Linked DNA regions of Homo sapiens: all the other regions are linked to region 1. Evidence: fine-mapped expression QTL. A gene starts in region 1. Each other region holds a variant in brackets. All regions are shown on one strand. Distances are between the middles of the regions.

The links. PIP is the estimated chance that this variant, and not a neighbour inherited with it, causes the effect.
Region 2: its variant is fine-mapped to the expression of LY75 in thyroid (GTEx, PIP 0.93).
Region 3: its variant is fine-mapped to the expression of LY75 in whole blood (INTERVAL, PIP above 0.99).

The regions. Positions count from the first base shown.
Region 1 is chr2:159,903,767-159,906,529 of GRCh38, reverse strand. It overlaps LY75 (lymphocyte antigen 75), which reads left to right and starts at 1,774. Exons shown (of 35, transcript NM_002349.4): 1 at 1,774-1,941. The coding sequence starts at 1,848. It overlaps LY75-CD302 (LY75-CD302 readthrough), which reads left to right and starts at 1,774. Exons shown (of 38, transcript NM_001198760.1): 1 at 1,774-1,941. The coding sequence starts at 1,848. RefSeq lists silencers at 1,572-1,813, 1,583-2,042 and enhancers at 2,223-2,302, 2,443-2,492, 2,713-2,762.
Region 2 is chr2:160,009,519-160,012,281 of GRCh38, reverse strand. All of the region lies in intron 10 of PLA2R1 (phospholipase A2 receptor 1), which reads left to right. Among named protein-coding and RNA genes, the nearest start is that of PLA2R1, 52 kb to the left of the region's middle. The variant A/G (reference allele first, on the strand shown) is at 1,444.
Region 3 is chr2:159,859,759-159,862,521 of GRCh38, reverse strand. LY75-CD302 (LY75-CD302 readthrough) reads left to right here. Exons shown (of 38, transcript NM_001198760.1): 15 at 1,633-1,701. It overlaps LY75 (lymphocyte antigen 75), which reads left to right. Exons shown (of 35, transcript NM_002349.4): 15 at 1,633-1,701. Among named protein-coding and RNA genes, the nearest start is that of LY75, 44 kb to the left of the region's middle. The variant G/A (reference allele first, on the strand shown) is at 1,181.

The DNA of each region.
Region 1 (2,763 bases):
ATTTTCTGGCCTCTGCCCTGTCACTGGTTTTCTCCCACCAGCTGTGCCTGCTCAAATTCCTACCCATTCTTTAAGACCCAGCTAAGATGTTGCCTTCCCTCAACATTTGTCAGAGTTTCCCCATTCATTCTGCCCTGTGTCACTGAGTGTGCCTGTATTAGGGTTCTCTAGAGGGACAGGACTAATAGGATACATGTATATATGAAAGGGAGTTTATTAAGGAGTATTGACTCATATGATCACAAGGTGAAGTCCCACAATAGGCTGTCTGCAAGCTGAGGAACAAAGAAGCCAGTCCGAGTTCCAAAACCTCAGAAGTAGGGAAGCCAACAGTGCAGCCTTCAGTCTGTGGCCGAAGGCCAGAGATCCCCTGACAAACCACTTTTATAGGTCTAAGAGTCCAAAAGCTGAAGAACCTGGAGTCCGATGTTCGAGGGTAGGAAGCATCTAGCACGGGAGAAAGGTGAAGGCCAGGAGACTCAGCCAGTCAAGTCCTTCCAACTTCTGCCTGCTTTTATTCTAGCCATGCTGGCAGCTGATGAGATGGTGCCCACCCAGACTGAGGGCTGGTCCGCCTCTCCCAGTCCACTGTTAATCTCCTTGGCAACACCCTCACAGACACACCCAGGAACAATACTTTGCATTCGTTCATATCAATCGAGCTGACAATATTATCCATCACAGTGCCTCAGTCTCCCCAGTATTCAGGGGAGGGCAGAGATGTTGTCTTTTTGTCCTTCTGTTCCATGGCGTGCCCAGATCCTGTGATGGCAGGTGCTCACTATATCTATGGAACTGAAAGGCCAGACCCTGGGGAGAGGACAGAGCAGGTTTGGGAGCCAACTGTGAAACCTTGGCAGTGGGAGTCAGGAAGAGCAACCTAGGTCTTTGCATCCTCATGCAACAAGGATGGAGGCCACCTCAAGTACACATTATGTGCTCAGCAAAGACGAGATTTAAAAGTATAAAACATTCACATTTGAGCAACTTAGGTCATTAAGAATTTGGCCTCTTTATAATGATAGCAGTGTCCACAGGAAGAGAGTGAGTGGGACATGAAATTTCTGGTTCTGCATGCAGACTTCTACATTTCTACCAGCTAATTATTATTATCATTAAATTATTAAGCAAAGAGCTTACTCGCAAAGGTCAACTTTTTATAAAGCATAAGTCATCCTTGGAAGTGTCGTTTGGTCATTCTAGTAATTCTTGCTTTTAATTCTTTAACAACTATGGGTAGAACTGCAGTGTACCATTATTCCACCTTTGTTTGCACTGTCAAAATACCCAAGACGTTGCCAAGGACGACTGAATTCTTAGGCTTGGCCGCAGCCACCCACAGGGCAGGTGCTCACTTCCTCCTCCGGGGTAGAAGAGATCATGGGTCCCTTTCCAGTCCAGGCTGGAATGGAGAAGTCGTCCCTGACCACAGTGCGCCAGGCAGAGGCCAAGGTTCTAAACTGATAGAACCCACCCACCAGGGCGGTGCCAAGTCCCAGTAAGGGCCGCATCTCCCCAGCTTGGCTGATGAAGAGGCGGGGACCGAACCCTCCAGTGCAGGAGCCTGTCTGGTGCCTGGCTCTCCCACCGATCCGCACGTACCTCTTCCTCGCGGGTCCTACCCCACGCAGGTATCTAGCGCCCAGCCCTGTTCATTTCCCACACCTGGCCCGCTCCGCCCCGGGGCCGAGGAGACGCACGTCTGATTGGCCGAGGGCGGCGGGGGCGGGGCCGGGGCGCCCCCAGAGGCCTAGACAGAGGTGCGGGCGGGGCAGGCCGCGCTCAGCAGGCGGGGCGGGAGCCGCGTGCGCCCGAGGACCCGGCCGGAAGGCTTGCGCCAGCTCAGGATGAGGACAGGCTGGGCGACCCCTCGCCGCCCGGCGGGGCTCCTCATGCTGCTCTTCTGGTTCTTCGATCTCGCGGAGCCCTCTGGCCGCGCAGGTAACCGCGGGCACGCCAGCCCCGCAGTCCGCTGGGTGCCTCGACGCCACAGCTCTGCTGCCTTCCAGCCTGGGGCAGGGCTGCGCCCCTGGGGCAGGTCACGGCTGCTTTGCTGTTGGGGCGGGGGGGCTCTGGAGCCGGAAGAGTGAGTCGCAGGGGAGGTCTGGCAGAGGAAGCGCCCCAGTGCCCTCGGGGGCCCGGAGGAGGGCGCGGTGGATGTGGGAGGACAGGGCCCTTCTGGTGCAGAGGGGACGCGGTGCACCGTAGAGTAGGCGCACGGAGGCTTTTTTGGCCGGGTGCGCTGCTCCATCGTCGCCTCTCTTATATAATGTTGCTGGAGTATGGGGTTCCCCATCTGCCCTCTTGCGTCCCGTCCCTCCCGTTCTCGCTTTTCCTTCGGCCCTTGGTCACCTTGGCCACAGGGCCAAGAGGAGCCTCCACCCACAGCGCCAAGGATTCCCCACGATTCCCGGATTTCACTGCGCCTACGGTGCGCATCAGGAAGGAAGTCAGGTTAAATAAACCATCTCCTCCGAAAGTGACCAAGACCAAGAGTCAGCTATGATGCCCTCACCCACCGCCTAGAGCAACAAACCTTTCTTCTCATTGGTTTATCAGCTCCAAATGACCCCGCTCCCCCAAGGCTGACAGCCTCACGGTGAAGGGCAGGTCGCCTGCTTGGGGACCTGCTGCCTCTCACTGCGGAAGCAGGACCAGAAACAGACAGCCTTCATTGATGTTCAGGGTAGTGCCAGCCCCACCACACCACACCCCTTGGCAGCAACCGGTTGCTTTTACTTTCTCTTTTTGCCTGGGCGAGGG
Region 2 (2,763 bases), 110 kb before region 1:
AGCGGGGTAGAACTCCAGTGGTGCCACAGGAAACTACACCTGCAAAGCAAGTCACTTGCATATTTACCTGGGCCATTGCCTTTAAAAATATTCACTGAATACCAGCAAATAGGACAACTGGTTTTACCTAGAGACCCTTCCCATATAAGCCTAATTTGTAGAGGAATTCCTGTATGATTTCTCTGCTCCTCCCACATTGGAAGTCAACATCCAAAGCTGCCAGTATGTCCTTCCTCCTCTTACCCTCTTTCTTGCCTTCTTACCCAGCTTCTGTTCCAAACAATGCACAGGAATGCATACACACACACACAAACAGACACACGCACACACACACACACTCAAATGGATTGATAGCATTTGGCAGACTAAGTCACCTGGTGAAACATTTTACTTTCAGGAGATCCTCCCGTTGAAATATAGCACTACCTTTGATGTATCTCAGCATTGTTTTTAGTTCTACCTTTCTCCTCCCAGGTTTGGCTAACAGGCAGAAGAAAGCCTTTATCAATTTGTTAACTCACCCAAAAGGTTCCAAGAACACCTTGGGTTGGAAGTCCCCCAGTCAGTGAGTCAACACTGGACTTCACAGGAGGCTGACCAATGAAGCTATACGCTCTTTTGTTAATTACAATTTAATTATGTTTTTTACCAAAGAAAATAAGTCCAATTGTTTCACCTGTTTTTTATGTCTTATTCTTTATTTTTTTGTTTAATGTTCATTGAGTGCCTGTCACATACCTGGCACTGTGTTAATTATTTTTCATATGTTATCTGACCACACAAAAAATTAATAGCCAAGAGTTTATTAGAAAATTTTTTTTGAATACCTGTTTTGTGAGAGTCCCCATATTAAACACTGACATGCTATCCACAAGAAATAAAAGGCATGCTATTATTGTCCAGTGCTTTCTGAAACCCAGCAGCTGAAGAGATCGAACATAGACACAAGAAATAAGTGAAGAAGGTAGAATAGCACAATAAATGGATAAACTCACAGTGACATTACAGATAACCCATAGTGCCACAGTGACCCAAGCTAAGGCAGAAATCTGTTAGAACAAATGCTTCATATTCCATGAACCCTTTGGGGACCTCATACAAATGACAGAAAGTATCTGGGAAAAAAATCTGTTTCATTTTCCCCAAAACTGGATACAAGACTATGTTGTGAATACTTTAAATGTTTTCTCTGGTAAACTGTATTCAGTAGCCAGCGCTCATGCCTGGTCCATCTGTAAAGCAGAACTATGGCATAGAGAAGTTTGTTTTTATCCCAGTCTTGGCCTCCTACGCCTGTCCAGATTGCCCTGTGCTGGTGTGCTGCCTGGTCACCCGCCAAGCCCTGAGGGAGTACAGATGAGCAGGATGTGTCATCTGTCCAAGTCAGTTAACATATACTTATGCTACCCCCAAAACATGTCTACATTCAAAGCAGCAACTCCA[A/G]CACAGGACTCATGAGTTGAAGAAAGAAAGGGCCAATGCTCTTGGTTTTTAATCATTCAGAGTCCATCAGGGAAGAAACAAGGGTCCACACTGTACTGCTTTTGATTCACCATACACGTTGGAATTTTTGCAAACAGCATCTTTTGTCTGAGAAGGTTGGGCAGTAGATGGAAAGTGTCTCAGATCCAGGAGTGTCCACTAGTGGCCATGGTAATCATTTTCTTCCATTACTGATTTCCTGTTTAAGACACTCCTGTCACTCTTCAGTACCCAAGCTTGTAGTTGCTAATCGATTTTCCACTCTTCTGCACAATGGAATGACAGGTTTGATGGGCACAATTAGAACCACCTGCTACAAATTACTTATTTCTTTTGTGATCAGGCAACTGCTCCTGGTCTAAGACTTTTAACACTTTGTGGAATAGAGAGGGGAAGAAAAACAGATCCTTATTGTTGAGTAACAAATTTTTGTTTGCTTGCTGATTGTTACAAAATTTTTTCAGGCCTGGCCACTTTGCTTCCAGACAAAGCATGAATGCAAAAGTTGAGTTCCAAAATTATAATGGATAATTGGCTAAATCCATGTATGTCTAAATTTTGAATCAATCAGCCATAGAATATTGGTACAAAATAATCCAAATGGCATTCAATTTTGTGAATTTTGCCAAAAGTGAGAAATTCTGCAATATCTCATTTTCTCCTAAGTTTATTTTACTTTCATTTATTTTTGAGACAGTGTCTTACTCTGTTGCCCAGGCTGGAGTGTAGTGGTGCCTTCATGACTCACTGCAGCTTTGACCTCCTGGGCTCAAGTAATCCTCCTGCCTCAGCCCCCCAAGTAGTTGGGACTACAGGCATGTACCACCATGCCTGGCTAATTTTTTAAAATTTTTTACAGAGACAGGTTCTTGCCATGTTGCCATGGCTGGTCTTGAACTCCTGGGCTCAAGCAATCCTCCTGCCTCGGCCTCTCAAAGTGCTGGGATTATAGGTGTGAGCCACTATACCCCTCCTAAGCTTAAATGTGCATTATTTTAAAGCATTTTTACAGCTCTACCGTTTTCCTGCAACTGTCATATCTCCCCAAAACACTTTTGCAGTTAATATTTTTTTTATTGTGGTAAAATATACGTAAAACACACATAAACGTAAAATTCACCATGTTAGTCATTTTTCAGTGTGCAGTTCAGTGTCATTAACTGCATTCAGATTGTTGTTCACCCACTACCATCATCCATCTCCAGAACTTTTTTCATCTTCCCAAACTGAAACTCTGTACCCATTAAACAATAGCTGCCTATTCTCCCCTCCTCCCAGACC
Region 3 (2,763 bases), 44 kb after region 1:
AAAAATTGTAAAGCTATAAATATAGTAGTCATCTTTGGGTAGTATGAGTGATTTTTTTCTTTTTGAAATGGGGTCTTACTCTGCCACCCAGGGTGAAGTGCAGTGCTGCGATCTCAACTCACTACAACCTTCACCTCCCAGGCTCAAGCGATCTTCCCACCTAGCCTCCCCAGTAGCTGAGACCACAGATGCATGCCATCACGCCCGGCTAATTTTTTTTTTTTTTTTTTGAGACGTAGTCTCACTCTGTCGCCCAGGCTAGAGTGCAGTCGTGCAATCTCTGCTCACTGCAAGCTCCGCCTCCCGGGTTCACACCATTCTCCTGCCTCAGCCTCCTGAGTGGCTGGGACTTCAGGCATGTGCCACCACGCCCAACTAATTTTTTAGTAGAGATGGGGTTTCACCATATTGGCCAGGGTGATCTCTAACTCCTGACCCTGTGATCCACCCGCCTCAGCCTCCCAAAGTGCTGGGATTACAGGTGTGAGCTACCGTGCCCTTCCACGCCCAGCTAATTCTTATATTTTTTTGTAGAGATAGGGTTTCACCATGTTGCCCAGGCTGGTCTCAAACTCCTGAGCTCAGGCAGTCTACCCATCTTAGCCTCCCAAAGTGTTGGAATTACAGGTGTGAGCCACATCTGGCCACAAGTGATTGTTTTCAAAGCTTTCTCTTTATACTGTTTATTTTCATTTTTATAGTAAGAAGCTTTTCTTTTTATTATCTAAATATGGAAGAGTTATACAAAAAATAAAATATCTTTTTCTGGGGGGACTAGGTGGGGATGACAGAGTCTCACTGTGTCACCCAGGCTAGAATACAGTGGTGCCAGTATGACTCACTGCAGCCTCAACCTCCTGGGTTCAATTGATCCTCATGTCTCAGCCTCTCAAGTACAGGCACATGCCACCACATCCAGCTAATTTTTGTATTTTTTGTAGAGATGGGGTTTCACCATGTTGCCCAGGCTGGTCTCGAATTCCTGGGCTCAAGCCATCTGCCAACCTTGGCCTCCCAAAGTGCTGGGATTACCAGCATGAGTCACTGTGCCTGGCCAAAAGTATCCTTATTGGAGGAAATTATTTGTTTGGAGAAACCTCTAGAAAATCCTTGCTATTATTCCACATTTATATTATAAGGATATATTAGTGTAATAGTTATAGGAGCAAAATTATTCTCA[G/A]ATATTCAATATTTACTCCAATTTTTGTCACCAAAAATTGGTGACTCCAATGTCACCTCCTTTTTTATTCTTTCTAAATGTAAAACTCCTTGAGTTTATTTTCAAATTGGAGCATATCTGAGATTAGTTAATCAAATAATGAGCATTTCAACACATGCAAAAAAAGAAAAAAGTATTTTGCAAACCTGATTCTCTATGACTCCAGCGGCGAACTTAATACACTATTAACTTCCACTTCTGAAACTGTGGCTTCCTTTGTTTGGAAACTTATGACATTATGACATTTGCTAAGTCCTCTCATGATTTAGCATCATGATATAAAAAAGAGATGGAAAAGTTTTCTTTCTGTGGCATATCAACGCACTTGAGTGATTAAGGCTGCCTAAATTACATCTAAATTGCAAATATTTATACATCAGTCTTAAATTCTCAAGCCTCTCTTGTCTTTTCAGGTGTCTACTATTATCATGCCAAATGAGTTTCAGCAGGATTATGACATCAGAGACTGTGCTGCTGTCAAGGTCAGTACAATGCTGGAAAATCTGCATATTTAAAACATAAGTCCATCATCATATGCAGTCAAGTAACAGATCCATGGAGTGTCTTTTTATGTGAAGCATGATGTTAGATGCAGTGAGAGATAAGCACACCCATGGCCTGGCCCTCAGCAGCCTAACTTACACTTCATTTGAGAGGATAAAATTCATATTCAAGAAAACCTCTCTCATTACCACGCAGTAATATGCTCCAAATGAGGGGGCTGAGGAAGGCTAATGAAATTCAGAGGAGAAAGTGAGTCCCATGGCCATTTCCCAGGAAGAGGTGGGACTTGAACTGGGACTTTAAGGATGGATAGAGTTTCTACAAATGGGATAGGGTAAGGTTTTTTCATGAGGGGATGGTATGAGAAAGTGGTATAAAATAAGGTGGAAGTGGAAGAGGGCAGTGGAGAACAGAATACAGATCAAGAAGTTTCATTGGTGCTGTCCTTGATAACAGTATTAGGAAATCAGATTGATGCCACTTTAAGGAATTTCTACACTTCTTGATAGGCAACAGGGCATTTTTTAAAGTTTCTGAGTAGGGAGGGTCACATGAACTAAGGAGGGTATGAGGAAGATTCATCTTGAGACAGATGTCAAAAGCAACAGGTAAGATTGGAAGGCATAGAAGACCAGTGAGGCATCTTCCTTTGCAGAATGCATTCATGTATCCATTTCATAAACAGTCCAAGGAGTCAGTGAGGCACTGGGTGATAGAACAATGACAAGGTACAAAGCATAGCCATTGTCTTCACAAAACTAAAGTCTAGTAGGAAATAAAGACAAGTAAACAAGCAATTACAACACCACTGAGTAAAGACTATGACATGCGAAATACAAGTTTTATGCAAGAACAAGAATATTATGAAAGAATAATAAGGATGGTGATGGTGATGGTCCATGGTGGTGGTGATGATGATGATGGAGCAGCTAACACTGATTAACTCCTTTATGAGCCAGCCACTATACTAGGCATGTCACATATGTCACATAGCACATAAGCAATCTTGTGAGGTAGGCACTGTTACTGTATTCATCTCA